Linked DNA regions of Homo sapiens. The protein of the gene in region 3 interacts with the protein of the main gene of each other region in a pairwise test. Each region holds a gene or a part of one and is shown on either strand. Other genes may lie near its edges.

Region 1 (4,423 bases), on a different chromosome or scaffold from region 3:
TTGGGGAGGGGCTTGAGTGATTTCCATTTGTTCGATTATCAGTTTATTGCCATCAGCCTGTCCTGGATGGGGCATGGCAGTGGGGGTGGAGGGAAGAGAACAGATGTGAGAGGTGATTGGGGGTACATTTACAGGTGCCATGCTGCTCAGGAGACCAGGCCCCATGTGTCCACGTGGGAGTTGAGGGTGAGTCTTGGGCTTCCGTCCAGGAGTACTAGGGGAAGAGCAGGACTGGGGAGGCTGCCTGAGGCTGGTTTCCAAAACACTGACTTTGAGTTGCCTTGGAATCACCCAAGTGGATTTGCAGATTTGGATCTCAGGAAAATATTCTAGACTGCAAACTTTTAAAAAGATTTGGCCTCAGGCAGCTGCATGGGGAGGAGTGTCAGCACTGCAGGCGTGGACGGAGGCCTGAGAGCTGCCAGGAGAGCTGGCAGGGAAGAGGAGGCGGCCCCCTGGGATGGAGACAGCTCTGGGGAGTGTGGTGGCCATGATGTTCCATCTGTCAGCTACATGGTTTAGCTCAGAAGGGGAAAAGTGTAACCAGGTAGAGGCTGAAGGAGGGCCAGTAGGCAGGCAAAATGGTCTCATCTTACAGAGAAAATAGTGACTTATAGAGATAATTATTTAGAAGTCTGAGCCCTCCTACTCTTGTTCTAATAACTAACAAGTTATTGTCAAGAATTCTTTTAAAACGAAAATATTTAATTCATGGTATTCAGGTTTCCTGTGCACGGAGCCTCTGCGCTGCGTTACTGTATTTATTCATCGGCCTTTGTCCTTGGGCGTTTCATCCTTCAAGGGAAGCCCTAAGTGATCCATGGTGTGGTGTGTTCCTCACAGGTTCATCCCGAGTTACTCCCTGAGTCTTCAGGCGACGATGGCCAAGGGCTTGTGACTTCTGCAAGCGACGTGACTGGAAACCACGCAGCACTTCACAGGGATCCTAGTGTGTTCTCTGCTGGTGATTCCCCAGGGGAGGCTCCTTCTGCGCTGTTGCCAGGGCCACCCCCTGGTCAGCCTGAAGCCACTCAGCTGACAGGGCCAAAACGGGCTGGCCAGGCAGCTCTGTCAGAACGAAGCCCTGTGGCTGATCGGAAGCAGCCTGTTCCTCCAGGACGTGCTGCGCGTTCAAGCCAGTCTCCAAAAAAGCCGTTCAATAGTATTATTGAGCACCTGTCAGTGGTATTCCCATGTTACAACAGGTATGAACAGAAAATGTCTGTGACTGTGTTTAATACTTTATCGAACTGAGGTTTCCTGATTAGATAAAATCATGGCTAGTTAGGTGTTAACATGAAAAGGGTTGCATAATTGTTTTGCTCAGAAAGACAGTTGCTACATTTCTTTCTTTTTGTAAATATAGAGATAAGTATTTTCAAATAAATTGGTGGGTTTTTTCTTTCTTTTTTTTTTTTTTTTTGAGACAGAGTCTCACTCTGTTGCCTAGGCTGGAGTGCTGTGGCACAGTCTCGGCTCCCTGCAACCTCTCCCTCCCGAGTTCAAGCGATTCTCCTGCCTCAGCCTCCTGAGAAGCTGGGATTATAGGCATGCATGACTAAGCCTGGCTAATTTTTGTATTTTTAGTACAGGTGGGGTTTCACCATGTTGGCCAGGCTGGTCTCGAACTTCTGACCTCAAGTGATTCACCCGCCTTGGCCTCCCAAAGTGCTGGGGTTACAGGCATGAGACGCCACACCCAGCCTCAAATAAATTTTTTAATGTGCATATGTAAATTGAAAACATTGAGCACTGGGTAATATTCATCAGAACCCATGACAATTTGCTAAGATTTTGATGAGACCAATAGCACTGTCTAAAACTAGTGTTATAGTATCAATAAATGAACGCAAAACAATAATTTTGCATCATTTGGGGGGACAAAATTATATATAGCAAAGAAGGCAGCAGCAACTTAAACCTTGTTATATAAGACCTCTGATTTGTTAGAGTGTGAGGTTGAAGACTGGATGGAATTCCATAGTGAATGGGGCATGTGGACATGTTAACAAGGGGTCCTTGTGAATGTGGGAAAAAGCTGCCCTTACCTGAGTGAGCAAGAGCTGTAAATAGAGTTGGGATGATGGCAGGCTCTTCAGTAGCGTTTCTGCCTCCACCTCTGGTTTCCGCTGTTCAGGTTGTTACGAGGGGGACAGAGTTGCCTCTTGTCTCAGCTGTGAAAGATGATGAGGTAGAGGCGGTGTCTCTGAAGTGCAGCTCGGATCAAAGGACTCTATGCTCAGGAATGACCTTTGGCATGTGCCCTATTATTTCAGTTTCTGAGACAGTGTTAATTACAGGCTTCAAAATTGAAATTTGTAAACAATGGGGCAGTTAAAATATGATTAGCCAGCAGGCATGGTGGCTCACGCCAGGCCGAGGCAGGTGGATCACCTGAGGTCAGGAGTTCGGGACCAGCCTGACCAACATGGTGAAACCCCATCTCTTCTTAAAAAAAAATGGCAAAACTCGCTTGAACCTGAGAGGCAGAGGTTGCAGTGAGCAGGGATCGCGCCACTGCCCTCCAGCCTGGGCAACAGAGTGAGACACTGTCTCAAAAAAAAAAAAAAAGTTATGCTTTTTAGATAGTTATTGTTGTTATCAGTGGTCTTCAGATTAATTTTATGTGCATTTGTCTTTGTTTCTTTGGGTTGGGCTGTTGGATTAATATTGGCATGTAATATTTCTTAGCAGTAGAGAACTTTCTGTTGTCATTCATCACTCACTCTCCCTTTCAGCACTGAGCTTGCTGGTTTTATTAAAAAAGTGCGAAGCAAAAACAAGAACTCACTCTCAGGATTGAGTATTGATGAAATTGTCCAAAGAGTGACAGAACACATTCTAGATGAACAGAAAAAGAAAAAGGTATTTTATCTAGATGTTCCAGTTTATCCTTATTTATTTATAAAATATGAGAATTGTTAAAAAAAAAAAAAAGCTTCAAACCAAAACCTAGAGAGCAATGTACTAAAGACAGAAGATGGTCAAGTTGTTGGATAACTGGTTGCTTCCCTCTTGTCCCCTCCCCGCCACCCCTGTTATTTTCGCAGCCAAACCCAGGAAAGGACAAGAGGACTTATGAGCCCAGCTCTGCCACCCCCGTGACCAGGTCCTCCCAGGGCTCACCCTCGGTGGTTGTTGCACCATCACCCAAAACCAAGGGGCAGAAAGCAGAAGATGTCCCTGTGAGGATTGTATGTATAACTGTATAGTTTTGTTTTTTAATGAAAAACAAGAAGCAAACAAAATTTTTAATCCATGATTTAGCCCCATTCATTTCTAGACCTAATTTATTTGATCCCAACATTAGAAACTGAATTTCAATGTACTTGAATGTGTCCAGTTAGAGCAATCAGTGAATGGCCGAGGTCATGGTGTCTGCTGTGATACGTTTGGGCCCAGCATGGAGAGAAGCCCCTGCACATGAGTGACAAGGGCTCTGACCATCGTGGGGGATCTGAGCCTTCTCTCTCTTGCCCTTGTTTTGCTGCAGATGGTCAAGTACATGAACTTTGTACATCCAGTGTGGTATTTTGAACAGTTGGGGAAATCATTTTTGAATAATTTTCTTCTGTGTAACCATGGCTTTGGAATTACACAGATGTGTCAATGTGTCGTGTGGCCACACCCACCCCAAGATAGACCGTGATTGCCTGGAGAAGAGGGTTCTGTTTTTGCTTCATGATGGATGTTTGTAGTAACGAAGATATAAAAGCTGACTTACTGAAACTTCACCAGATTGTATGAGAAAGAAAAATATGTGTTCAAACTGGGACCTAATTTGATAACCATAGTTTGTTAAAATTAAAAGTATTAATTTTCAAATTACAAAGTATTACATACAATAGAAAATACAAATAAAAAGGGCATTTAAAAACCCGCCCTGTAATCAGTATTACCACTTTGGTATATATTTTTCTAAACTCTTGAATGCATGGATATGTGAATTAGTCAAAACTGAATACGCTAGTCACACTTTGTATGTTCTCTGAGGGGCTGAATGTTTTGGTTGTTTTCCATTTTTTTTTTTATTGTGGTTGTCCTTTTTTTCTTTTAGTTAGAAATATACTGTGCCCATCTTTTCTAGGAAATAGAAAACGGTCAAGTTAAGTGTATATTTTTTTCAAACTAAACCTGGCTCCGAGCTTTGCACTGGGCATTGGAGAGGCCTTCAATGGCTCTTCCCCGGTCTGGCACTTCCTCTTCTTCCCTGACCCTCGAGTCATGGGCAGCAGTGGAGGGGCATGAACCCTCCTTCTGCAGCATCTGCCCCATCTCCTCCTGGGCCGAGTCATGCCTTGGGAGAGACAGCAAAACCCTGAACAGCAGTTCAAGGTCTTCTCAGCCTTGGGGTGATGCCTCCAGTGCCACTCCCTGAACTTGATCCCACTGCCAGGGCTGCCTGCATTCGCCCACTCCCTCA
Region 2 (4,423 bases), on a different chromosome or scaffold from region 3:
CCGGGCACCTGCCTTTGCAGGAGCTGATGAGGTGGCGGTGGTGGTGGTGGTGGTGATGGTGGTGGTGGTGGCTGGATCCGTAAAAGCTTTCGGAGGATGTGAAGGAAAAGTGATCAAAGTCACTTTCACTGCAGAAGGATGACCCCTCTAGGTGAATGTAGTCACTGTGGTCGGACACAACCCCGTCCTGGTCGCTGTCGGAAAACTCCACGTGTGCTCGGGGCTGCTCATCGCTGGTGACTTCAATGTGAATGGGCACCAGGGCGTTAGACTGGCAGCCTCGCCGGCCCCGAGCGGGGGGGCCGCTTTGATTTTCTTCCTCCAGCAAATACTCAATGGAAAACCGCCTCTTGGGACATAGGCCATTTTGCGGTGGTTCTAGGGTTACGGGAGACAGCATGTCATCCCCTAAATTTGGCATGGATTTGGACTTCTGGATCAGCTTTTCGAATTCGGAGATGCGTGTGGGCACCATGTCCCGGGGCACCTCCTCCGTGGAGCACTGGCTCCAGGCGCGCAGCAGGTCCTTGTGCTGCTGCTCGCTCTCGTACTGCAGAATCCTGGACTTCACGGAGCAGATCACCTCGGAGTTCATCAGGTCCTTGCGGTTGATGCGGTGCATTTTCTTGTACATCTTCAGGAACCCCGGGGCGTTGCGGGCTGACCTGTGTCTGATCCTTGATCTGCCGTTACTGCGAACCTCCGGGACGTAGGGGGACCCCCACGCCATGGGGCAGCTCTCCTTGGAGTCCTCCTCACATAACAGGGAGCCCATGCTTTCCGACTTGACTTTCGGGTCCGGGAAGCTATCGCAGTCGTCGTTTAGGAGATCGTCACAGCTCCGGGATTTGATTTTGGGAGAGACGGTTTCTTCCGTGCTGCTCCAGATTTCTGCGTTTTGCCGGGCCATTTGCCAGCCGTTCTTGAAACTAATGGCTCTTGGTGAGTCCCGAGGGACATCCAAGTGCTGTCTGTAAGTGCTACAGTAATCTAACTCACTGGAGGGGTTGCCGTTGAGCCCTGAGTAACTGCAAAGGGATGGACATATTTTGCTATCATCCCCACCTTTTAATCCAGAGCAGCGTGGTAGAAGAGAGACATTTGGAGAAGTTAAAAGGTTCACAAAGAGAGGAGAGCATGTCAGTAAAGCATCAGACAGCATAGCAAGGAGAAAGCAGTTAGTGTGTTTTAATCTAGGTGCTGATTGTTCACACATGGAGCTTCAACTCTAGAGAAGAAGGTCTAATTCTAAAGCGAGCTAATACTTTTTCAGTGAATGTAGCTTTGCAGAGAGAGTTGACAAAACTGTGTATAAGAAGCAACCGACGTAAGCAAATACACCTACTCCTACTGCATAATTCATACACCTTTCTGACAATATTGTTTGCCAAAACACAATAGTGCTGCTTCAGCTGATAGCATGATCTGGTAGTGAAGGTTTAACAATTAGTGTCAAAAGTGTTATACCCTTACGCAATTTAATAGGGCCGGAATTTGAGCCTCATTTGATTCGTAATGATACATAGGTGAAGAAGGGTTTATACATTTACATCGAATTAATACTCTCATGACTATATCAAATAATTTTTTGTGGGTTTTAGATTTTAAAAGCTATAAGGCAAAGTATTCTCCAAAATTGCAAAATCAAAATGCTGTGAACTATTGCTGCTAACATTTTTCTAGAAAAAAATAGCTAAAGCTCTTTAAACAAACGAATTTACCTCTTAAATTGCTCTACCTTTAACCTTTTATTAGGTACAAAATTCTCATAGGAAAACTGAATATAATGCAAAACTTTCATCAGAGGTGCATATACCATGCTTTTTTTCTCGGAAGAGTTCTTTGAAAAATCATTTGCAATTTGATAATAGAGATCTACATTTGGCCTCAATTTTGAATAGCTATGGAAATGTTCTTTTGCTTTGCTGAGTCAACTAATAAATGAGGAGCCAAATTATATCTAATAGGACATTTTCTTCCTAGAAATAAAATCTAATGGAGGAAAATATCTCTATTCAATACTTATACCTTACAATGTTCTCTAAATTCTTTAAAAGTAGATAAGCACATTAGGTAGATCTGTACTGTCTGGGAAAGGAAGTTGATTTAACATTCCCTGTGATGAAACAAATATCTACATTTATCAGAACCCTTTTAACTTTTGGCTAGTATCCAAGAATAATAGGTCAATGGCATTTCATGACCTACTTGTTACCTTAAGATATTCATTTGAATAAGTGAGTTGAATCTGATAAGGCATCTCTGCTCCTCAGAGGAAAGATGTGATGGATGGGGCTCACACGCCCTGAACCATCAGCTGATATCACAGCTTTACAAGGCCTTAAAAGGGCTAGGCATCCACCTACTCAGAGTCCAATCATCACGACCAGAATACCTTTTGCACACAAATCAGCTACCACTTTTAACTACCATGTGGCAATGGTTTTAGTGACTATAGTTGATAGGTGTAGCTGAATTGGTCTGGTTTTATAGAAACTTACATTAGAGCTCAATTTCTTTACACATTTCAAAATCTCTTTCTCTTCTCTTTCAATCCCAAGATATTAGAGGAGATTGTGGGGTCCCACATTTGGTAGAGCCCTAGCTCCCTGTAGGGGCTGGTTCAATCCTCACTCTCCATCTCAGAAATATTCCTGTCCTCAAGGAATACCACTAAATGGTCTTCCAGAAACCAGAAGGAGTGACTTCTTTCAACAGTGAGCTCCCTACACTTGCAGAGAGGAGACGGGCCATCCAGAAAAAAAGGCTTGGTGATTCCTCAGTGATATCATTATGGTTTGGGACCAATTAGTCCTGACTGTGAGCTGCTGTGAATTGACCACTGTGTTACATGGCAGGAGGTGGATGCTCCACTGTTCATGTGAAGGTGGCCCAAAATATACAGCAAATGGCTAAAGAAATTAATAGGTCGGATTTTTTTAAAATCTAGAATTGAATAATTTTTTAAAACCCTCCAAACCAATGTATATTTTAGCCAACAATTTGCTCTGTTGCTGCTTGTAATTTTTATCCTATAAATTTGACTAATTTGCTAGTTGTAGAAACATTAGAAAATTTTGACTATATGTCAATGTTTACAAAATACATCTTTTAGTAGCCTGATGATACATTATTTGATACTTTCAATTTGTTTAGAAAGGGATCTATTTGGGGGAAAAAAGCATTAGCAGATGCTAGTCAGAGTTCTTTAAGCAACCTAAGTGGCTCGCCAGCTTGAGTCAGTCTGGGTGGGAAGAAGGCTATTGTTCTAAAACTATATTTTATTCCAGACACTGTAGGTGAGAGCTGGCACATGCCACTATCACTGGGCCAGCTTTCACACAGTGCTCTAGGCTAAAACGTAAACTAGTAAATTGTTGTGTTTTCATTTACTATGCTCACCTTTTGCTCTTGATGGGGAAGAAGGAGAAGAGCTAGTGAAAGACTTTGTAAGAGTGGTGCTTGATCCTGGGAGGTCCACTCGGCCTGGGCTAGTCCTGCTCGCACTTTGATCTCCCAAGCCCCGTGGTGGACCCACTGCAGGCTCGCTCTTCCTCCGCTTCCTGAAGTCACTGGCCATGCTTGCAGAACTGAAAGAAGGAATCAGATCTGTTTGATTGGCACTGGAGGAGGTTCGGGTGTGCACCAGAAAAACCGGTGGAACGTGCTAGTGACAATGGCGTAACTCCTAAACCTCTATCCCCAAAACTGCATTGCTAGGAACTCATCCCTTGATGTTCAACATGATTTCTCTAGAAGGATCTTTTAAAAAATGAATAGACCTTATTATTTATTTTGAGATGGCTTCTGGCTCTGTCACCCAGGCTGGAAGCGCAGTGGTGCAATCACAGCTCACTGCAGCCCCAAACTCCTGGGCTCAAGGGATACTCCCGCCTCAACCTCCTGAGTAGCTGGGACCACAGGTGGGTGCCACCTCACCTGGCTAATTTTTTTAAATTTGTTATTTATGTAGAGACAGAGTCTCACTATGTTGCCCAGGCTGGTCTCAAACCCCTGAGCTCAAGTAATCCTCAAGCCTCAGTCTCCTGAAGTGTTGGGATTACAGGCGTGAACCACTGTGCCCGGACAACTAAATTTTTTTAGGGCAGTTTTAGGCTTACAGAAATAATGACTGGAAAGTGTAGAGAGTTTCCTTATAGTCCCTTTCCTCTTGCACAGTTTCCCTTATCATTTACATATTCTTTTGGTGGGTACATTGTCACAATTGATGAATCTTTCCTGATGCGTCGTCACCCCAAGTCCATAGTTTACATTTGAGTTCATGTTTTGTCTTAAACATTTTAGGGGTTTTGAGAAATGTATAATGATGTGTGTCCATCATTAATGTGTCAATCATATAAAATAGTCTTCCCGCCATAAAAAGCTTCTGTCCTCCAGCTTTTCATCCCTCCCTTCCTCCCGC
Region 3 (3,139 bases):
GGCCTGAGGAAAGACTCTGCGGAGGGGAGGGCAGTGTGGCTGGCAGAACCCAGCCTGAACGGACCACGTGGGCCGCGGGACGTAGTTGGCTCTGCGCAGAGGCTCTGCGGGGCCCTACCTGCGGCCTCTTGATGCGCGTGTAGGACAGCAGCGCCTCCACGTAGGGCTGCTGCAACGCCTCCACGCGGCCCGGCTCCTGCACGTTGGGCCGGTCGGCCGAGAAGATGTTGATGGCGATGAGCAGGGCGTACTCAGCGTCGTCCAGGCCCAGCCGCCGCATGGCCCGCGAGAACTCGAAGATGGGGTTGATGAACTCCACCTGCAGGCCTGCGGGGCGGGAGGCAGCCCGTGACTCCCTCAGCCCGAAACCGTGCCCCACATCCTGGACCCTGGCGCTGCCCACAGTCTCTGGGGCTGGGAACACAGCAGTAATTACAGCGTTCTTGTCATTTCTGTCCACCTGTGCCCCGTGCCCATGAGTGCTGGCATGTAGTAGGTGTGCCACACATGCTGCCCAGTGAAGGAATGAATGAGGGTGCATGTTTCTTCAGTATTTTCTACTATCCTATCACCACCCTCCCTTCCCACCTGGGCGGTGGCTGCAGCTTCCCGAGTCCCTATTCTTGTCCCCTTCACAAAGGCAAAGGGAAGCTTTTAAAACCTAGGTCACATCGTGCTGGTCCCAGCGCTGGCTTCCACTGCTCAAGGTAAAGCCCAAACTCATTCCCAAAACTGACTTGTTCATTCAGTCATCAAATGTCACTGAGTACCTGCCACGTGCCAGGCTCCAGCACTTACATTTGAGAGCCTAGGGGACCGGTCATAGACAAACACATTAGGAAGAGGCCCAGCCTGTCAGAGGGCTGTGAGTTCAATGGAACCAGGCAGTGCAGAGAAGTGTGAAGGGCCCTGCTGAGCCATGGTTCTATTTTACACAAGGCGGGCAGGGAAGGCTGCGCTCTGGGTGACGCTGGAGCAGTGACCAATCCGAAGGAGATGAGGGATTGTGAGGGTGACCAACGTCTGCTGTTCCCATGACTTGGGACGGGGGCTACCCAGGCCATGAGACTTTCAGTGTTAAAACTGGGAAGGTCCTGGGCAAACTAGGACCAGTTGGTCCCCCTAGTTCTGGGCAGAGGAAACTCCAAGTACACAGGCCCTTGGCTGCAGCATGCTGGATGGGTGCCAGTAAGAGGCCAGAGTGGCTGGAACAGGGGGAGAGGGTGAGAGCTGAGGGCAGAGAGTGAGCGAGGCCAGGTCCTAAAGGGCTTTGTGGGCCACAGAGAGGACTCTAGCTCTTCTCCCAGTGAGACGGGAGCCGCGGAGGGTTCTGAGCGGAGGAGGGAAGTGGGCAGCCTTAAGTGCTGACAGGACCCTTCTGCCTGTGCTGTGAGCAGCCCCATCAGGCAGGGGTGGAGGCAGGCGGCCCCTCAAGGGGACCCTGGCAGTGTTCCAGGGTGGTGGCAGAGGAGCGGCTGGGAAGGGGTAGGGTGGGATTCCCGACCTCCTCTCCACCCCATCTCCTTGTGCTCCAGCTGCCTGGGCCTCCCTGTAGTTCCTCCAAACCACCAGCTCTCCCCAACCTCAGGGCCTCTGCAATCGCCAATCTCCTCTGCCAGAAACGCTTCCCTGCAGCCCTGCCCTGCTAAGCTCATACTAAAAGGGTTACTGGGACCGTCTCGGGTGGTGAAAGGGCCGGAGTAAGAGGAAGGGGAGAGGGTGGGGTTTGGACAGATGTCGGGAAATACAGAGAGGTCCCCCAGAGATTGTGGGACAATGAGGGAGCGAGGCCCTGGTGCATGCTCTGCAGCACTAGCAATGCTCCTCCCACCCTTTTCCTAGGCAGTGCCTCTCACTGCCCAGGCCTTCTTCCAGAAGCCCACCCACGCAGGTTAGCGCTCTCAGAGGGCAGGAAGCAGTGCTCCCCTAGACAGTAAAGAAGGCTGCCCGCTTCACAATGGACCGAGCTCCAGCCCGCCTCCCTTGGGTGAGACCACGTTTTGGCGGGGGCGGGGAATGCTTTTCCTAATGCCCACCAAGATGCCTGATGTGGTAACAGGGCTCCTCCCATCTCAACTTCCACTGCAACCCAATGTACAGAGTCGGCACTCAATACATGCTTTTTTTAAAAAATAGAGACACGGTCTTCTCTGTCACCAGGCTGGAATGCCGTCGCACAATCACGGCTCACTATAGCCTCAAGCAATCTGCCCTCCTCAGCCTCGAGTGGCTGGGACTATTGGCGTGCACCACCACACGTGGCACATGCACTCTTACCTCACTCTCACCTTGGCTCAACCCTCACCCCAACTTTGGAGATAAAGAAACAGAGACTCCAACAGGGATGAGTTGGCCCCAGGTCTTCCAGCCAGCAGGGGCGCCAAGCCTCCCCGAAGCCTCCCCTGGGCCCTACCTGCACGGTGGAAGTCGTCCTTGCTGTAGGTGAAGTCCTTCAAGAAGGTGATACACTCTGTCTCGTGGTTGTAGCGCCTGGCTGTCTCTAGCAGCATGATCTAAGGGCGGCAGCGGGAGGGGGAGCTTGAGCCCTGTGACCCTTCAGCTGCTAGTCCCTCCCCTCCTGGCCCAAATGGGGGTCTAATCTCACCAGGATTATCCCTTGTCCCCTTCCCCCCTGTTCTCTCAGCCACACCAGCGTGCAGCCATCACGTGAGACAGCCCGAGCTCTTTCTCCACTTCAGGCTTCCGCACATGCTGCATCCCCATCTCCTTAGGATACTCTTTCCCCAGGTGAGCACAAGGTTTGGGGCACGGGGTTTGATCTGCTTTGTTCTTTGCCCCATATGCCAACACTTGGAATAGAGCCTGGCATACAGCACGTGCTCAATACTTATATGTTATCCCTACTTTGATTCAAATGCTAACTCCTCTGAAAAGCCTTTTTGGCAACTTTTCTCTGCAATAGCGCCTCTAGCCTGATCCTCAATTTTCTCAGCCTCAGACCCTTTTTCCTTTCTCTCCTTGGCTCATAGAAGACTCTATTCGCCGTGGAATGTCATCCTACAACGGCAAGCACTGGTCTTCCTTAACTCTGCTCCCAGCATCTGTCCTGGAGCTATCTCTGGGGTTCCTTGTGGGCAGATGGACCATTACCTCGATAGTGGATGCCTTCAGGAGGGCG
Region 4 (4,423 bases), on a different chromosome or scaffold from region 3:
GAAAAAAAAAAAACTTTTTTTAAGTTCTACAGGTGATTCTGATGGGCCACCAATTAAAGAACCACTGGAGAAGTAAGTTTCCATCTTCCAGTAAGCATATCAAAGGAAAGGCAGTACCTTCTTTCAGAATAGTTCTTTTGACACAGCTTCCAATGAGGGTGTTATAGGCCACTTGGTGTCTGATCAGATTTAGGATAAGAGGAACTCGGCCAGGGTGCTGAAAGGTGATTTTGCTAACAAGGGTTCCCTGTAGACTTCGGCCATCTGGAAGAGGAGCATCCTTGTTGAGGAAATAGCAGTGCTGCTGACCAGGAAGAGCCTGGGCAAAAAGAACAGTTAACGAGTGCTATTTAGTTACCTATTGTATTCCAACCACAAAGTATCCTGAAAAAACCTACTACTCAAAAAAGTGCAGAAAAGTCTCCACAGTGAATGTTTTCATCAGCTGATATTATAAATGTCAATCAATTACTAATTAGGCTGAAAAGATGTCTTTTTAGTAAATGCACTATGCTAGTGATTTCCTAACCTAGCTAACATAAAAACTACCTCAGAAATCTGTATTAAAGAGGTTCCTAAACCATAAATGCAAAATCTCTTTTTTTTTTTTTTTTTTTTGAGACAGAGTCTCCCTCTGTTGCCCAGGCTGGAGTGCAGTGGTGCGATCTCGGCTCACTGCAAGCTCCGCCTCCCGAGTTCATGCCATTCTCCTGCCTCAGCCTCCTGAGTAGCTGCGACTATAGGCACCCGCCACCACGCCCGGCTAATTTTTTTTGTATTTTTAGTAGAGACAGTGTTTCACTGTGTTAGCCAGGATTGTCTCCATCTCCTGACTTCGTGATCCACCCACCTGGGCCTCCCAAAGTGCTGGGATTACAGGAATAAACAACCACGCCCGGCTGCAAATTCTCTATTTTTAATAAAACACCTATATAATAATAATGCAGCCAGAATTTGGTAACCACTACTTTAGTCTATTGTAAAAGATTCAGATAAATACAAGTCCAGATGAGGTTTTGGAACGTTCCCTTATTATTATTATTATTACTTTTGAGACAGGGTTTCACTCCCATTACCCAGGATGGAGTACAATTGTGCAATCTTGGCTCATTGCAATCTCTACCTCCCAGGATGAAGCCCCTCAGCTTCCCGAGCAGCTGAGACTACAGGCATGAACAACCACATGTGCCTATTTTTTTTTTTTTTTTTTTTTGAGACAGAGTCTTGCTCTTGTAGCTCAGGCTGGAGTGCAGTGGCACGATCTCTGCTCGCTGCAAGCTCCACCTCCCGGGTTCACGCCATTCTCCTGCCTCAGCCTCCCAAGTAGCTGGGACTACAGGCGCCCGCCACCACACCCAGCTAATTTTTTGTGTTTTTTAGTAGTGACGGGGTTTCACCATGTTGGCCAGGATGGTCTCGATCTCCTGACCTCATGATCTGCCCGCCTCGGCCTCCCAAAGTGCTAGGATTACAGGCGTGAGCCACCGCTCCCGGCCACATCAGCCTAATTTTTGTATTTTTTTTTTGTAGAGACAGGATTTTGCCGGAGGATGAGGCAGAAGAATCGCTTGAACCTGGGAGGCAGAGGTTGCAGTCAGCCGAGATCGTGCCACTGCACTCCAGCCTGGGCACCAAGAGCAAAAAAAAAAAAAAGAAAAAAGAAAAGAAAAGGACAGGCAAGGTGGCTTGCGCCTGTAATCCCAGCACTTTGGGAGGCGGAGTAGGGTGGATCTCAAGGTCAAGAGATAAAGACCAATCTGGCCAACATGGTAAAACCCCGTCTCTACTAAAAATACAAAAATTATCTGGGCATGGTGGTGCACACCTACAGTCCCAGCTACTCAGGAGGCTGAGGCAGGAGAATCACTTGAACCTGGGAGGCGGAGGTTGCAGTGAGCCGAGATCGCGCCACTGCACTCCAGCCTGGCAACAGAGCTAGCTAGACTCCATCTCAAAAAATAAAAAAATAAAAAAGAGAGGATTTTGCCACGTTGCCCAGGCTGGTATTGAACTCCTGAGCTCAAGTGATCTGCCTTGCCTTGGCCTCCCAAAGTGCTGGGATTACAGGTGTGAGTCACTGTGCCCAGCCTCTTAATTACTGCTTCCAGCATTTTCCTCTCTGTAAGTACTTTCAGGATCTTTCCAGATTCTAAGCTCATGGCACTTGAAAGAATTAAACAGTAAGAATTTATAACACCTAATTATGATATTCTAAAAGTTCAAAATACCATTAAGAGTCTGTCACCCCGCCAGGCAAGGTGGCTCACGCCTGCAATCCTAGCACTTTGGGAGGCCGAGGCGGGCGGATCACGAGGTCAGGAGATCGAGACCATCCTGGCTAACATGGTGAAATCCCGTCTCTACTAAAAATACAAAAAATTAGCCAGGCATGGTGGCAGGCGCCTGTAGTCCCAGCTACTCAGGAGGCTGAGGCAGGAGAATGGCATGAACCCGGGAGGTGGAGTTTGCAGTGAGCTGAGATCTCACCACTGCACTCCAGCCTGGGCGACACAGCAAGACTCCGTCTCAAAAAAAAAAAAAAAAGTCTATCACCCAAAATTTCTTTTTCTTTTTTATTTTTTTGAGACGGAGTCTTGCTCTGTTGCCAGGCTGAAGCGCAGTGGTGCGATCTTGGCTCACTGCAACCTTCGTCTCCCGGGTTCAAGCAATTCTCCTGCCTCAGCCTCCCGAGTAGCTGGGACTACAGGTGCATGACACCACACCCAGCTAATTTTTGTATTTTTTTAGTAGAGATGGGGTTTCACCCTGTTGGCCAGGATGCTCTCGATCTCTTGACCTCGTGATCCACCTGCCTCGGCCTCCCAAAGTGCTGCTGGGATTAGACATGTGAAACACCACGCCCAGCCTCGTTTTTTTTTTTTTTTTTTTTTTTTGAGACGGAATTTCGCTCTTGTTGCCCAGGCTGGAGTGCAGTGGCGCAATCTTGGCTCACTGCAACCTCTGCCTCCCGGGTTAAGTGATTCTCCTGCCTCAGCCTCCCAAGTAGCTGGGATTACAGGCATGTTCCACCACACCCAGCTAATTTTTATATTTTTAGTAGAGACGGGGTTTCACCATGTTATCCAGGCTGGTCTCAAACTCCTGATCTCTAGTGACCACCCGCCTTGGCCTCCCAAATTCCTGGGATTACAGGTGTGAGCCACTGCACCTGGCCAATCACCCAAAATTTCAACAAAGAACTGTACATTGTTGTTTCCTAATGGAAGCTCATGCCCTTTTACTTCAATACATTTCCGAGATTTCTTTTTTTTTTTTTTTTTTTTGAGACAGAGTCTCGCTCTGTCACCCAGGCTGGAGCACAATGGCACAATCTTGTCTCACTGCAACCTCTGCCTCCCAGATTCAAGCCATTCTCCTCCCTCAGCCTCCCGAGTAGCTGGGATTACAGGCACCCGCCACCACACACGGCTAATTTTTTGTATTTTTAGTAGAGACAGGGTTTCCCTATGTTGGCCAGGCTGGTCTCGAACTCCTGACCTCACGATCCGCCTGCCTTGGCCTCCTAAAGTGCGGGGATTACAGGTGTGAGCCACCGCGCCCAGCCCATTTCTGAGATTTCTGTAATTTCCTGCCTTACTAAAGAAATAGGACATGATCCAGCAGTCTTGAAGAAACTTATCTGACCTCAATAATGCTATAAAGGAAGATTATGATCTTGGGTCCAAACATAACCTACAACATTCTAGCTCCCTAGGGCTTTACTTACAGCATAAAATCTCATGTTGTGATTCAAAGGTATGGGGTCAGGGTCCTTTGATAGCTCAAACTGAGTGATCAGTTCATACAGGGGTGCATAAGTTGGTTGAGTTTCAAACAATGGAATTCCTGGAAAAACAAGAATCAATATAATGATCATGTTAAGATGAAAACACTGACAGCTCAGTTTCCCCTTGATATCTACATTCATTCACCCAAAAGAGTACTTACTAAGCATTTACTAGTACAAAGCACTATAACATCTTTACCAGTAATACTTCAATGAGGCATGTAAGACTGAAAGACGTCATGATAACCTGACTTTGAAGTTTCTTTTTCACATTTATAACAAGTACTAGATCCTGATGCTCAAAACTCACCTGTGCAGTTCTGCAGTTTCTGAACAAATGCTCTAGATACTGGGATTGGCTGGGGAAATTTCAAGAAGAAACAGGCAGGAAGATCAACACTGTTGGCACTGGTGATTGAGGAGAAGGAAGGGGTCCTTCAAAAAAAAGAGGGTGGAAGGGTTGGATTCTGACTTGATATAAAAATGAAAAACCCAAACACCTTTTTTTTTTTTGAGACAGATTTTCCCTCTTAATGCCCAGGCTAGAGTGCAATGGCGTGATCTTGGCTCACTGCAACCTCTGCCTCCCGGGTTCAAGGGATTCTCCTATCTCAGCTTCGTGAGTAGCTGGGACTA
Region 5 (4,423 bases), on a different chromosome or scaffold from region 3:
AAGGCTAACTGGAATAATATTCATAGCACACCAGGAGTGCATAAATAATTTACTTACATTATTAAAATACAACCCATAAAATTCAAGTTCAAGATCTTATAGGATTGTCTATGTAAATCCTTTAAGTGGTTGCCTGGAAATGCATTGTTTCTTCTTTCTCTTCTCTTCTTTTTAAAGTCCTATATAAAATCTTCAGCTGAAGTTTATTTCTTCATCAAACAAAAGGACCACCTTTATTTGTGTCTGCTGCCTCTTCTCTTCATTGCAGCAGTGCACTGTGGACAGTACCATTTGCCTTTTGGTGCCTCTGTCAATCCAACGCAGCCATAATGGAACCATTCTATAGGGCACTAGAAAGCAAAATTGCAAAAAACAAGTTTTCAGTACTTCTGAAGACAAGAGAGTATATTAAAATATGCTCAGGAGACTGAATAATCCATTTAATTTAACAATAATTAGATGTGTGACATCAGAATTTTTAGATCTAGATTATTTAGACATCATTTAGACTAAATGATAAGCTTCAGGAATGAGGAAATGAAGGCACAGAAAAATTATGCATCTTCAAGAATCCTGAGGTCCATGTAATCTAGTCCCCTCATCCTAATGAATGAAAATTCACTAGTTTTCAGCTTTCAAGGGCAAAAAGAAGTGGGATGAATCTTCTATGTAGAAGGTAAATATAACTTAAGATTTTATTTAATAGTCAGCCTTATTTGCTGTCTCATAAAGTAGAATAAGCTGATTGTAATTAAAGACATTAATTTATGTCTTATGCCCTGCATTTCCTACGTGGGTGTTTCTATTCCTTGAAATGTAGAGAAAAATTATTCCTCTTTGAAACATATTAAGCAGAAAACTCTTTCATGAAAGTCTTAGCACTCAGAAGAGCACAACTGGGAATAAGAAGAATCAGAGAAGCATGATGCTGGTACTCATAGAAATCTCATTCATCATTTTCACTAACTGCCCCAGAAGAGTTTACAGTGATGTTCTTGAAATGGTTGGGCAATATTGTTTTTGCAACAACCACAAACAGCCTACAAGGGATTCTAGACAGGGAAACAGAAGGAGGCTCTGTCCCAATCTACGTGAGCATGTTGCTGTAACCCTATCAGGTCTAGGAAAAGTACACATTTTAATGCACCTAGCCAGCTCCCTCAATCTTCAGATTGTTTTACAAATTTAAAACTCTTGTTAATCTTAGGATCCTGTCACTACTAAATAAGGAGGGAGTCAAAATTACTAGACAACAATATTCTCAGTATTGAATAAAAAACGTATCTCTAACTAAAATTAAGTCTCCTAAAAACCAAGAATTCCTTCCTTTCAAATTTCCTTTACTTTTTAGATCAGGGGTGGCTCTTATCAGCTGACACCTGCAGAGTACAGGAAAAAATATTATACTCATGAGAGGAAGATAATCTCACATTAGATCCTCAATTATCCCACCCTTCACTTTAGCACGGTGCAGCCTGAAAGAATGAATTGTTTTAAAATTCCATTTCTTCAATGTGATAAATGAACTGGATTCTAGTAAACACAGTATTTTTTAGTAAAGGGAAAGGAGGGTATTTATAATTTTCATACAACATAACACTTCTGAGACAATCTGCACATAAAACCATAAAATTAGCTTTAAAAATTAAAATAGGGAACACATTAAGGGACACTACCCTATTTTGAAGAGGAATATTCTAGCATTAGCATAATATAACTAATATACCTGCAAACCTGTTTTCTTAGACCAAACCATACAGCAAATAAGACAAATATTCAAGTAATAACAACCTGTGATTTTTTTCATTCCTAAATAGAAAAATGTAATACTTACATCTTGGTTATCACATCCCACCATCTCACCATAAGATACCTAGTTAAAAAAAATTAAATGTCTTTATTATGACTATGTAACAAACACCTAGATACCAATTAACTGTTTATGTATGATACTGCTGGAAAATAAAGGGAAATACACTGAATATACAATTACATTGAGAATCAAGGTATAATAATTTTTTCCTGAAATACTCTTTTGGGCAGGGTGGGGCAAGGGTGGGAAGAAATGCACAGGAATTATCTGCCCTTCAGAAGTCTGGAAGAACTTGACATATAAATCACCCGGATGAAGGAGTCATCTTTCTGGGTAGTTCTTATTGTAAAAATTTTAAGTTCCTTTCTTGATTATTTACTTACTGAAAGTTTTTACTTCTTGGGTCACATTAGGTCATTTATATTTTTGCAATTAATAGTCTCCTTCCTTGAAACTTCTAAACTTATCTATTTTATGTCCTTTCTCATTTTTCTTTTGCTCTTCATCACCAGCACTTTAGGGCATAACTTGCTAATTCTTGAGTTCACTGAAGTTCTCAGTGGATTGAATAATTTTTCAGACAGGATTAACTAGATGGCATATCTTCTGATTCTCTGCATGAGTGAAAATATATTTACATGGTCCTATGCAGAGAAATAACTTCTCTGAATATCAAGTTTTTGGGGGCTCTTAATTTTTCCCTGAAAGCTCTACAGACATATTCCATCACCTTCTAGTTTTTTAGTGTTACAGAGGAAAACTCTAGGTTCAGTCTGATTTTGTTCTTTTGCAAGTAATCTACTTTTGTTGTCAGGATACAGGATATGCTTTTCTATCATTTGTACTGAAAAATGTTTATCGGGTGATAGTGGAACAGCTAACAAATTGTTAAAATTTTTAAAAATCAGACTGGCAACTCATACTGTTAGACACAATAATCTGCTGATAGACTAAGTCTTAAATGTGAAGAAACTGAAGCATGCAAAGAACTAGACAAAACCATATAAAAACTAGGAGAAAATATTATACAAGACAATTTTTTGTAGAAAGAAGAGCCAAAGAGAAAGCCCTTCTAAGTATATAATCCATGGCTTGCTTCATAAAAAAAAATTAACAGTCATAACTACATAAAATTAAAATTTTAGAATTATTTTTAAAAAACTAAATCAAGCAAATATTTAGAGTACATAACAAAAACAATAGAAAAATCAGCCGACACCATTAGGAGTCGATTCATAATGTAAAAAACAAAAATGGTCAAAAAATGTCCAACTTCAATAATACTAGTGTATTTAAAACAATCATAATATAAAACTACCAAATTGGTACTTAGTTTTTAAAAGAAAATAATATCCAGTGTTGGACAGGGTTTAGTAAACCGGTATGTTTATTAATTTTTGGTAATAAATTTCTAGAAAATATATTTTGGTGTCTGTCAAATATTTACAGCCTAATTTTATTTCTAAAAGATTATCCAAGAAATTAGATGTATAAAATGGATTACATTTAAAAAATGCCTATCGTAATATTATCCCTAATTTCAAACAAATTAAAACCACTAATATAATCTATAGCTAGGTATTGGTTAAGAAAACTACACTGGATGGCATAAGAGATAACTATGTGAAAATTAAAAATATGATCTTAAAGAAAAATCATGTTCGGTATACCTGATTTAGAGAAAAAAGCCAGTAACAAGAAAGTATACACTGTGGTTCCTACTGACAAACTTATACACACATGCATGTGCAAATCTGCATAGACACGTGTTATGAAATGCAAGCTTATGTCTCAAAATCATATGTTGAAGCCCTAACCCCCAACGTGACTATAATTGGAAACAGGGCCTGTGAGGAGGTGGTAAAGGTTAAATGAGGTCATAGAGTGGGGTCCTACTCTGACAAGGCTGGTGCCCTTATAAGAAAAGACACCAGAGCACACTCTTTCTCCCTCTATCATGTGAGGACCCGGTGAGAAGGCAGCAGTCTCCATCTAGGAAGGGAGCCCTCCTCCAGAACTGAGTCAGTGGACACCTTGATCTTGGACTTCCCAGCCTTCATACCTGTGAGAAAATTATTTTCTGTTGTTTAAGCTACCCAGTCTGTTGTATTTTATTAAGGCAGCCAATGTGCACATGAGGTATATGGTAGTGGTATACCAAAAATGTTTAGTTACAGGTTGTATCTGAGGGCTAGGATTATGGGTAACATTTTTCTTTATACTCAGTATTTACAGCAAATGTCACTTTTGTAAGAAGGGGGAGAAAAGTATACAAATAAAGCAAAGGTATTTTAAGTGAGTTTAAAAAAGTGCTTAAAAATGAAATAGTTCTCTTCCTTCTAGTTTATTCAGATTATACTTTTATAGATATAACAGACTTTTACCTGATTACAAATGCAGTATCGAGGTTCATTTGGGTCGTAAGTCCAATCAACCTGACTATTTGAATCAGATTCTGGCACTACAGTTGTTTGTTGAGAGATTTCTTGTACAACAGTTGATGATGAAGAACACGATGATAAGGAAGAAGAGGAGGAGGAAGATGATGACTGCTGGCTTGAAGACTTGTTGTTGTTTCTGAAAAAAATAGTATAAGTTTTATTTGCTCAC
Region 6 (4,125 bases), on a different chromosome or scaffold from region 3:
TGGGGCTTCATCCTCAGGAAGCCAGTACCTCTCGCGCAAGCGTGCCCACACAGAGATGTCATGCACCTGTCTTCCGGGAATCCCCCTCTCACCATCTCAAGGCCACCATCTGTGTGGATTTCAGACCAAGCAGCCAGTCTACGTGCAAGCCCTGCGGCCCAGGGGAGGGCAGCCTGTGTGGAGGGCAGCCGTGCCACTCACCAGCCTCTGCCGGCGGCACACAGGCATCTTCCGTTTCTTCGAAGCCGTCAGGACACACACAGACGTAGCTCCCTGGAGTATTGTAGCAGTTTTCGTTTTTCCTCACACAGGTTTTTTCTGCTAGTGAGCACTCGTCCACATCTAAAATGAAAAGACTCCGTTTTAATAATTACTTTGCTCAGCAGACGCGCAGCGGATTATGAAATTCATTCATTCAGATTCATTCACATAAAGAAAGCACAACGATGACAAACGTCACGTTACAGAAAGGAGCAAAGATCAGGAAAGGCTTCGAGAGGGAAGAATTTCACGTCTCCAAGTTGGGCCCTCAACTGGTAGAAAATGCAGAGAAGAGACCTCCAGGTGGGGCCGGAAGGCCAGCATGCGCCCAGGAAGCCCACTTTCTTTTCCTTTTTTTTTTTTTTTTGAGGCGGAGTCTCGCTCTGTCGCCCAGGCTGGAGTGCGGTGGCGCGATCTCCTCTCACTGCAAGCTCCGCCTCCCGGGTTCACGCCATTCTGCTGCCTCAGCCCCCCGAGTAGCTGGGACTACAGGCGCCCGCCACCACGCCCGACTAATTTTTTGTATTTTTAGTAGAGATGGGGTTTCACCGTGTTAGCCAGGATGGTCTCGATCTCCTGACCTCGTGATCCCCCCGCCTCAGCCTCCCAAAGTGCTGGATTACAGGCATGAACCATGGCGCCTGCCCAGGAAACCCACTTTCTCCACCGGGTTCCATCCACGCCCAGGCTCACCCAGGCAGCCCACAACCATGGCAGGCCTGGACTTAAGCCTCGGGGCAATCGCCACCCAGGAGCTGGAGGGAGAGCAGAGGCGGTGGACCTGGGGAACGAGGCCACCGGCGAGAGGCTGGTGCAGCAGCGCCATCCACACCAGGGTCGGCCATGCAGAGCCCGTCCCCCACCCCCACTGCTTCTGTGTCTCACGTGGACCTCAGGGCGAGTGCACAGTGACCCTGGGGGAGCCACGTCTGCAGGACGGGTCTCAACTGCTTCCCATCCCTGGCAGTACCTGCTGGGGCCATTCACATCATGGTCACTTGGGAAGGGTCCACCAGCGTCCAGCACAGACCCCGTCACTGACCTGCACACTGTCCGTGCTCCCTCGCGTAGCCAGAGATACACTCTTTACAGTTTCCTGGGCCTTCCCCTGTGCAGCCCACACAGCTGGAGTCACACTCTGCAACAGGGAGCCAGCGTCAGACCCCGACATGCACAAGGCACCAGTGCCCGTCAGACCCCGACATGCACAAGGCACCGGTGCCGCCAGGATTTGGGTTTTCTCCTCATTCATCACCAAGTGACTTTATAACGATCTGTCTCTGTCTCCCGGCAAAAGCACAGACTCGCGTCCTGCTGTGCAGCAGGTGCTCCCGGAGAGCCATGGTGCAGACCACCTGGCTTGGAACTCTTTGGGAGAAACTGGGTGCTACAGAGATTCTAGAAACAAACCCACCTCCAGCTCGGTGACCATTGGTTTGCCAGCCTGCCAGGAGCTTCCTAAGAATAACCAGAGCCTCTCGCATGGCTTCCAGTATTAGTGGCTCACTGAGGGACCCACTGTCTGCACTCCCAACAGTGAAAACTGCCTGGGGCTGTCACACACACGGGGCAGAGGCGGCCTCCTCCCTGCTGCTGGGACTGGGGATCAGCACAACTTTTCTGGGGCACTATGGCTCTAAAAGACACATTCCCTTGACTGAGCGATTTGGAAATTAATCCACAGAAAATCATAAGGAATGTGAAAAGTTTACCTTCAAGTGTTCACAGTTTATAAGTTGAAAAACTGTTATGACGTAAACGTCCAGCAACAGACATTGTTGTAAAAGTATGAAATAATGGCTCCAAAATCATTAGCGTGACAGAGAAACCACAGGACGCAGAGACGTTCGCAACAAGCTGCTGAGTGGAAAACACCCGACAGGCGCTGCGGAAAGTCACGCAGGGCACGTTGCGGGGGCGCTGGGGGGGCACGAGCAGTGGAGGCACCAGCAGGGTGCGCTCTCCAGGGAGTTCCTGGGTTTTTAACTGTTTTCTTTTCATCTGACTTGAATTTTCTGATTTTCCTGCAGCAAATACCTATGACTTACTTTGCCACACTAAGTGTTCTCAGGGCAGGCAGGATGTATGGAAGTGACACTAAGAAGCCATAAATGAATGTTGACAAAGGCAGCAACGAAACCCGGCAGGCCCCGGAGTGCAGACCCGCCCGCCTGGCCCACCTTCGCACGTGTAGGAGCCGTTGGCGTTCTTACAGAACTGCGCAGCGCTGCAGGGAGGCGGCTCGGCCGCACACTCGTCCACATCTGGAACAGAGCGGCACAGCTGTGAGCGGCCCAGGACAGCCCGGCCAGGGAGCGGGGAAGGACCGATCATGGCCTGACACAGCCCGTGGCCAGGGCCGGCTGGGGAAGGGCAGGGAGGAGGGCAGCCCCTGAGGAGGAATCATCTCAAATGCCATCCTCGGAGGCCCCACGCGGCAGGGGAGGGGATGAGGCGATGGCCAGGCCCTGTCCTTAGACACTCAGTGCCAACCGGGGCAGGCGCCCCATGAGGATGGCGACACATTGTGTGAGAGTGAGACAGTGAGTGCCCCCACACCTCACGCCCCCACCTCACGCCCCCACACCTCACGCCCCACCTCATGCTCCCCCACACCTCACGCCCCCCACACCCCAAGCCCCACACCTCACGCCCCCACCTCACGCCCCCACACTTCACGCCCCCCTGCCTCCCGCCCCCATGCCTCACACCCCCCACGCCTTACGCCCCCATCTCACACCCCCCACGCCTCACGCAGGCGCCCTCCTCCACCCCCGGGCCGCTCCTCACCCACACAGGCGCCCTCGTCCAGCACCCAGCCCACTTCACACTCGCCGCAGTCTCTGTTGGTCAGGCCCGAGCACGTCTTGCAGGACTCGTCACAGGCTGGAAGGCAAAGGCGGGCCTGGGTACAAACCCCACTCTCAGGTACCAGCTTGGGGACAAGGCTCGTTTAAAAGTGAGGAATTTAAGAGGGAAAAGCAACACGGGATTTTCAGTGCCCATGAATTTAAAATTCTCAGCAAACCAGGACTCCAAGGAATTTTTAATAACCTGGAGAGAAGGCAGCTATCCATACTCTGGAGCTGTAGCCTGGCTGGGTGTGCGTGTTCCGGCCACGGATCCATGCGTGGCCCACGCCACGCCAACATCCAAGAGACAGACAGCAAGGCGGGTAAGAATCGGAGAGGCCGGTCCTGACTGCTGAGGGGCGTAAGAATCGGAGAGGCCGGTCCTGACTATCGATCCACGGGTCTGTCTGCCCAGAATAGCCTAGGGGCTGCCGGCCAACCACACACTCACGTCCGAGACACTCAGAGTTTTCCTACATATCAGTGACAACCAGGGAGAAAACGTCCTTTGGAAAGATGCCACTCATAACGGCCTGCAGGGATTTGACAGATGCTGCTCTCTGGGCCGGTGCGGGGCCCACACGGCACCTCCAGGACCTGTGCACTGCATGGCCCATCACAACTCAAGGTCGGGGTGGACCTTGAACTAGAGAGAAAGGTGAGTAGCTTCTCCCTTCTGAGGGCTGTTACGGGACAGGAAGTGCCCGACAACCTCTGCCTCTATCCTCTGATGTTTTCATTCATCCTTCTGGGCCCTCGAAGCTTCCTTGGACATCTGGGGTTAAAGATCAACAGGCCCCTGTTCCCATCTAGGCAGGCAGCTCCAGCAAGGGGCTCTTGTCATCCCGCCTCAACCCCGGGGCCAGCCCAGGCGTAGCCCGTACCTGTGCAGATGCTGTGGGTCTCGTTCCGGAGCGAGCTGAAGTAGCCGTCCATGCAGTCAGTGCACAGCGGGCCCTGGTACCCCATGTGGCACCGGCAGGACCCGTCGCCCTGTCTGCTCCCATCTCCG
Region 7 (4,423 bases), on a different chromosome or scaffold from region 3:
GGAGTTCTGTAAGATGAGGTCACAGAGAGCTGACCCTCCCTTTCTGAGAGTCTCATGAAGACAGGGTGGCTCAGGGACAAGTTCACGGTGGAGAAAATTGTGCTTTGCTTTTGGAAAACTTACTGTTGCAAGTGTGTACTTTAGTTACCACGTTGGAAGTTTCCGTTTTTCTTAGTCATCATTTGCAACTTCTGGGTAAGCGTGATAGTGACTCTTAGTCATCGTAAAGAGGAACGTCTTGTTGGATAAGCACATCTGAAAGACCAACCTTTGGGATGGCAACTCTTGAACTTTTCCAGCTGGAATGGTTCTGCCTCTAGTAAGCTTTGCTGAGTCTTTAATTTAAAGGCTGACATGTAAAAAGCAATCACTGTAATAAAGCTGGATAAGAAGAATATGACATAGCTAGGCATGGTGGCTCACACCTGTAATCCCAGCACTTTGGGAGGCCGAGGCGGGCGGATCACCTGAGGTTGGGAGTTCAAGACCAGCCTGGCCAATGCGGAGAAACCCCATCTCTACAAAAAATACAAAATTAGCCGGGCGTGGTGGTGCATGCCTGTAATCTCAGCTACTCGGGAGGCTGAGGCAGGAGAATCGCTTGAATCCAGGAGGCGGAAGTTGTGGTGAGCCGAGATCGTGCCATTGCACTCCAGCCTGGGCAATAAGAGTGAAAGTCTGTCTCAAAAAAATAAAATAAATAAAATAAAATAAAATTCCTCTAGCCACCACCACAATGAAGATAGAGAACTGTTCCATCCCCACAAAGGCCTCTCTCCTGCTGTCGCTTTATAGTCACACTTGTCTTCCTCCCTACCCCATCCCCGCAACTCCTTGCAGTCACTACTCTGTTCAATGTCTCTATGATTTTGTCATTTTAGGAATGTTATATAAGTGGAATCATATAGTATGTGATGTTTTGAAATAGATTAGCTTTCTTTCAGTCAGGATAATGCCTTTGAGCTGGATCCCAAGTTGTTTTAGTATCAATAGTGTTTTTTGTTTTAATTGCTGAGAAGTGTTCCATGGTATGGATGTACCACGCTTTAACTGTTCACCTGTATTTTGGTTCTTTATAGATTTTGGCTGTTATAAATAAAGCTGTTATGAGCATTCATGTACAGGCTTTTGAGTGAACATAAATTTCCATTTCTCTAGGTGAATATCCAGGAGTGTCATCCCTGGGTTTTATGGTAGTTGTGTGTTTGGTTTTTTAATAAAGTGTTCAACTATTTTCTATGGAAGCCATATCACTTACATTCCCACCAGCAATGTATGAGATGCCCAATTTTCCCTCAGCTTCACCAGTTATGAGTATTGTCACTATTTTTTTATTTCAGCTATTCTGATAGATGTGTAGTGATATATCATTGTTGTTTTAATTTGCATTTCTCCCTGATGGCTAATGATGTTGAATATCTTTTTATATCCTCATTTGCCATCTTTATATATCCTCTTTGGTGAAATATCTGTTCATGTTTTTTGCCCATTTTCTAATTAGATTGTTCGTTTTTACTGTTGAGTATTGAGCACTCTCTTTTTATATTCTATATACCAGTCTTTTATTGGATATGTGGTTTGTAAATGTTTCTCCCGGTCTGTAGCTTGTATTTTCACAATCTTCATGTGGGCTTTCACAGAACAAGAGTTTTTCATTTTGATGAGGTCCAATTTACCAATTTTTCCTTTAATGGATTCTGCTTTTGATGTCATGTATAGGAACTTTTTGCCTAGCTCTAGATCCTGACAAGTTTCTTCTATTTTTTTCAAATATATTTTCTAGTTTTGCACTTTACATGTAAGTCCATATCCATTTTAGAAGGTAAGGTTCAGGTCAGCATTTCCCTTTTTGGTGATGAGTTTCCAATTGCTGCAGCACCATTGAGTTGCTTTTGCATCTTTGTTAAAAATCAACTGGGCATATCTCTGTGGGTCTGTTTCTGGGTTCCCTATCCTGTTCCCTTGATCTGCATGTCTATACCACATAGTCTTTACTGAGACTATACTACAGTAAGTTTTGAAACTGTGCAGACTGAGTCTTCCTACTCTCTTGTTTTTCAAAATTATTTTAGCTTTTCATGGGTCTGTACCTTTCCATCATGTATACGTGCTTTTAGTGTAACCTACATGGACCAAGTGAGTGAAAGCACTCGTGTATGAGAAAAATAACACCCCAGATATAGGGTGATCGGTAGCCAACACTGGCTTCTGGCTGAGGCATCAGTAAGGAATGTGAGAGCTGGGGCCACCTGGAGAGCGATGCCAGATCTTCTGATACTTTAAAAAGAAGTTGGAGTCCCCTGATTTTTACTAAACAAAACAGAGACATGTGGTCGAAATAAAACAGTTTGCAACTTCTGCTTTGGAGATTTTTTCTTTTCTTTTTCCAGAGATAGAGTCTCGCTCTGTTGCCCAGGCTAGAGTACAGTGGTGCTATCATAGCTCACTGCAGCCTTGACCTCCTGGGCTCAAATGATCCTCCTGCCTCAGCCTCACGAGTAGCTAGGACTACAGGCACATGCCACCACACCTGGCTTGGAACTTTATGTAATGCATTCACTCCTTCATTTATTGTCCAACCAATGCAGATCCTACTTCTTGACTCCCCACTTTGTAACAGAACAAGATTACAGGCCTCTTCCTTTCGATTTTTCTCCCCTTTTTACCTGCCAACTTCCTATCATGGACATGTGTACCTTAATATTGTCATGGTGCTGATATTTACAGTCTGTTATTTGTTTCATGATTTGTTTCTAAGTGAGTTCTAAAAAGTAAAAATCAATAAGTGGTTTTTAGATTATTATAACTGGTTGCCAATCCAACATCCCACTTCTCACTTACATATCCCTGATCTTGTTTGGGATGGCAAGATGCTCAACTAAACTAATCTTCCCAGCCTCTTTGGCTGGTGCCTCCTGTATGCACATTCTAGGCTCTAGCTGTCTCAACTCTCCTTGGTCATTCCTCCATCTGCTTTCTGTCTTCTGGAAAGCTATTGAAATCTTGGCCGGGCATGGTGGCTCATGCCTGTAATCCCAGCAGATTTGGGAGGCCGAGGCAGGTGGATCACTTGCGGTCAGGAGTTCCAGACCAGTCTGGCCAACATGGTAAAACCCCGTCTCTACTAAAAATACAAAAATTAGCCAGGTGTGGTGGCGCTTGCCTGTAATCCCAGCTACTCGGGAGGCTGAGGCAGGAGAATCGCTTGAACCCAGGAGGCGGAGGTTGCAGTGAGCCGAGATCACGCCACTGCACTCTAGACTGGGTGACAGAGTGAGACTCTTTCTCAAAAAAAGAAAAAAGAAAAGAAAAGAAAAGGAAAAAAAACAAAGAGAAAGAAATCCTTCAACCCTGATGACTTTTTGTGGGTTTCTATTTCCCTCCTCCCGTTTACTCTTACTTAAACAGGGTCAAGGTTGAGGCAGGACAAGATCCACACAAGTACTTGAACCTGAGTCCCAATCACTTTGGAAAATTCTTTTACTAATTTATTTTATTAAAGTAACACAAGCACATAATACATAATTTAAAAGGTATAACTTGATACACAGTGAAAACAATTTCCTTCTCACCCCATCTTATAGCCACCCAGTTCCTCTCCCTAGAAGCAACCACTGTTTCTTATGTCTCCTTCCAGACATAGTTTATGTATTTTCATTTATTTTATTTTTTGAGACAGGGTCTCACTCTGTCACCCAGGCTAGAGTGCAGTGGTGTAATCACAACTCACTGCAGCCTTGACCTCCCGGGCTCAAGCAATCCTTCTGCCTCAGCTTCCCGAGTAGCTAGGATTACAGGTGCACGCCACCATGCCCGGCTAATTTTTTTATTTTTTGTAGAGACGAGGTTTTACTATGTTGCCTAGGCTGGTCTCGAACCCCTGACCTCAGGTGATCCTCCCACCTCAGCCTCCCAAAGTGCTGGGATTACAGGTGTGAGCCACTGAACCTGGCCAGTTTATGGATTTTTAAGCAAATATGAATATAATCATTCTTTCACTGTTTATGATGAAGCTAGTATACCCTTCATCACATTATTATTATTTTTTGCTTAACAATAAATCTTCAAGATCACCCTCAGAACCTCCTTTTCCTACCTACATGGTGTATCCCGGGTATCATAAGTCAATTTTTTAAATATAAGCCTATCTTAGACAATTTTGTTATAACAGCAATGCCATATGACTTGGTGTCATGTGAGTTTTTTGAAGTTCTAGTTGCTAGAGAAGGCAGTTTCTCTTTCTCAGTACTTCCCTCATTTGAGGTCACCTGATAGCGAATACTACTTCAAACCTCACCATGTTTTTTGTTTGTTTGTTTGTTTGTTTGTTTTTCTGAGACAGGGTCTTCCTCTGTTGCCCAGGTTGGAGTGTAGTGGTGTGATCATGGCTCACTGCTGCCTCCAACTCCTGAGCTCAAGCAAT

Evidence for each region.
Region 1: the proteins of NR1H2 (region 3) and TTC3 interact in a two-hybrid assay, tested with the Homo sapiens proteins (one large-scale study listed by BioGRID and IntAct).
Region 2: the proteins of NR1H2 (region 3) and SORBS2 interact in a two-hybrid assay, tested with the Homo sapiens proteins (one large-scale study listed by BioGRID and IntAct).
Region 4: the proteins of NR1H2 (region 3) and MED1 interact in a two-hybrid assay, tested with the Homo sapiens proteins (2 studies listed by BioGRID and IntAct, with this or other methods).
Region 5: the proteins of NR1H2 (region 3) and ING3 interact in a two-hybrid assay, tested with the Homo sapiens proteins (one study listed by BioGRID).
Region 6: the proteins of NR1H2 (region 3) and CRELD2 interact in a two-hybrid assay, tested with the Homo sapiens proteins (one large-scale study listed by IntAct).
Region 7: the proteins of NR1H2 (region 3) and MPP1 interact in a two-hybrid assay, tested with the Homo sapiens proteins (one large-scale study listed by BioGRID and IntAct).

The regions. Positions count from the first base shown.
Region 1 is NC_000021.9:37,194,832-37,199,254, forward strand, and holds part of TTC3 (E3 ubiquitin-protein ligase TTC3), read left to right. Parts: intron 1-843; coding exon 844-1,205; intron 1,206-2,738; coding exon 2,739-2,865; intron 2,866-3,050; coding exon 3,051-3,194; intron 3,195-4,423. UniProt on the Homo sapiens protein: E3 ubiquitin-protein ligase which catalyzes the formation of 'Lys-48'-polyubiquitin chains. Mediates the ubiquitination and subsequent degradation of phosphorylated Akt (AKT1, AKT2 and AKT3) in the nucleus.
Region 2 is NC_000004.12:185,623,430-185,627,852, forward strand, and holds part of SORBS2 (sorbin and SH3 domain-containing protein 2), read right to left. Parts: intron 3,591-4,423; coding exon 3,403-3,590; intron 1,066-3,402; coding exon 1-1,065. UniProt on the Homo sapiens protein: Adapter protein that plays a role in the assembling of signaling complexes, being a link between ABL kinases and actin cytoskeleton. Can form complex with ABL1 and CBL, thus promoting ubiquitination and degradation of ABL1.
Region 3 is NC_000019.10:50,379,154-50,382,292, reverse strand, and holds part of NR1H2 (oxysterols receptor LXR-beta), read right to left. Parts: coding exon 3,112-3,139; intron 2,514-3,111; coding exon 2,414-2,513; intron 328-2,413; coding exon 119-327; intron 1-118. UniProt on the Homo sapiens protein: Nuclear receptor that exhibits a ligand-dependent transcriptional activation activity. Binds preferentially to double-stranded oligonucleotide direct repeats having the consensus half-site sequence 5'-AGGTCA-3' and 4-nt spacing (DR-4).
Region 4 is NC_000017.11:39,419,600-39,424,022, forward strand, and holds part of MED1 (mediator of RNA polymerase II transcription subunit 1), read right to left. Parts: intron 4,223-4,423; coding exon 4,098-4,222; intron 3,847-4,097; coding exon 3,728-3,846; intron 320-3,727; coding exon 118-319; intron 1-117. UniProt on the Homo sapiens protein: Component of the Mediator complex, a coactivator involved in the regulated transcription of nearly all RNA polymerase II-dependent genes.
Region 5 is NC_000007.14:120,970,655-120,975,077, reverse strand, and holds part of ING3 (inhibitor of growth protein 3), read right to left. Parts: intron 4,391-4,423; coding exon 4,198-4,390; intron 3,878-4,197; exon of another isoform or gene 3,733-3,877; intron 1,874-3,732; coding exon 1,835-1,873; intron 351-1,834; coding exon 234-350; 3' UTR 1-233. UniProt on the Homo sapiens protein: Component of the NuA4 histone acetyltransferase (HAT) complex which is involved in transcriptional activation of select genes principally by acetylation of nucleosomal histones H4 and H2A.
Region 6 is NC_000022.11:49,921,634-49,925,758, reverse strand, and holds part of CRELD2 (protein disulfide isomerase CRELD2 isoform b precursor), read right to left. Parts: coding exon 3,998-4,125; intron 3,889-3,997; coding exon of another isoform or gene 3,854-3,888; exon of another isoform or gene 3,765-3,853; intron 3,466-3,764; coding exon of another isoform or gene 3,316-3,465; intron 3,148-3,315; coding exon 3,052-3,147; intron 2,526-3,051; coding exon 2,442-2,525; exon of another isoform or gene 2,299-2,441; intron 1,400-2,298; coding exon 1,304-1,399; intron 343-1,303; coding exon 202-342; coding exon of another isoform or gene 89-201; exon of another isoform or gene 1-88. UniProt on the Homo sapiens protein: Protein disulfide isomerase. Might play a role in the unfolded protein response. May regulate transport of alpha4-beta2 neuronal acetylcholine receptor.
Region 7 is NC_000023.11:154,795,014-154,799,436, reverse strand, and holds part of MPP1 (55 kDa erythrocyte membrane protein), read left to right. Parts: intron 1-4,423. UniProt on the Homo sapiens protein: Essential regulator of neutrophil polarity. Regulates neutrophil polarization by regulating AKT1 phosphorylation through a mechanism that is independent of PIK3CG activity.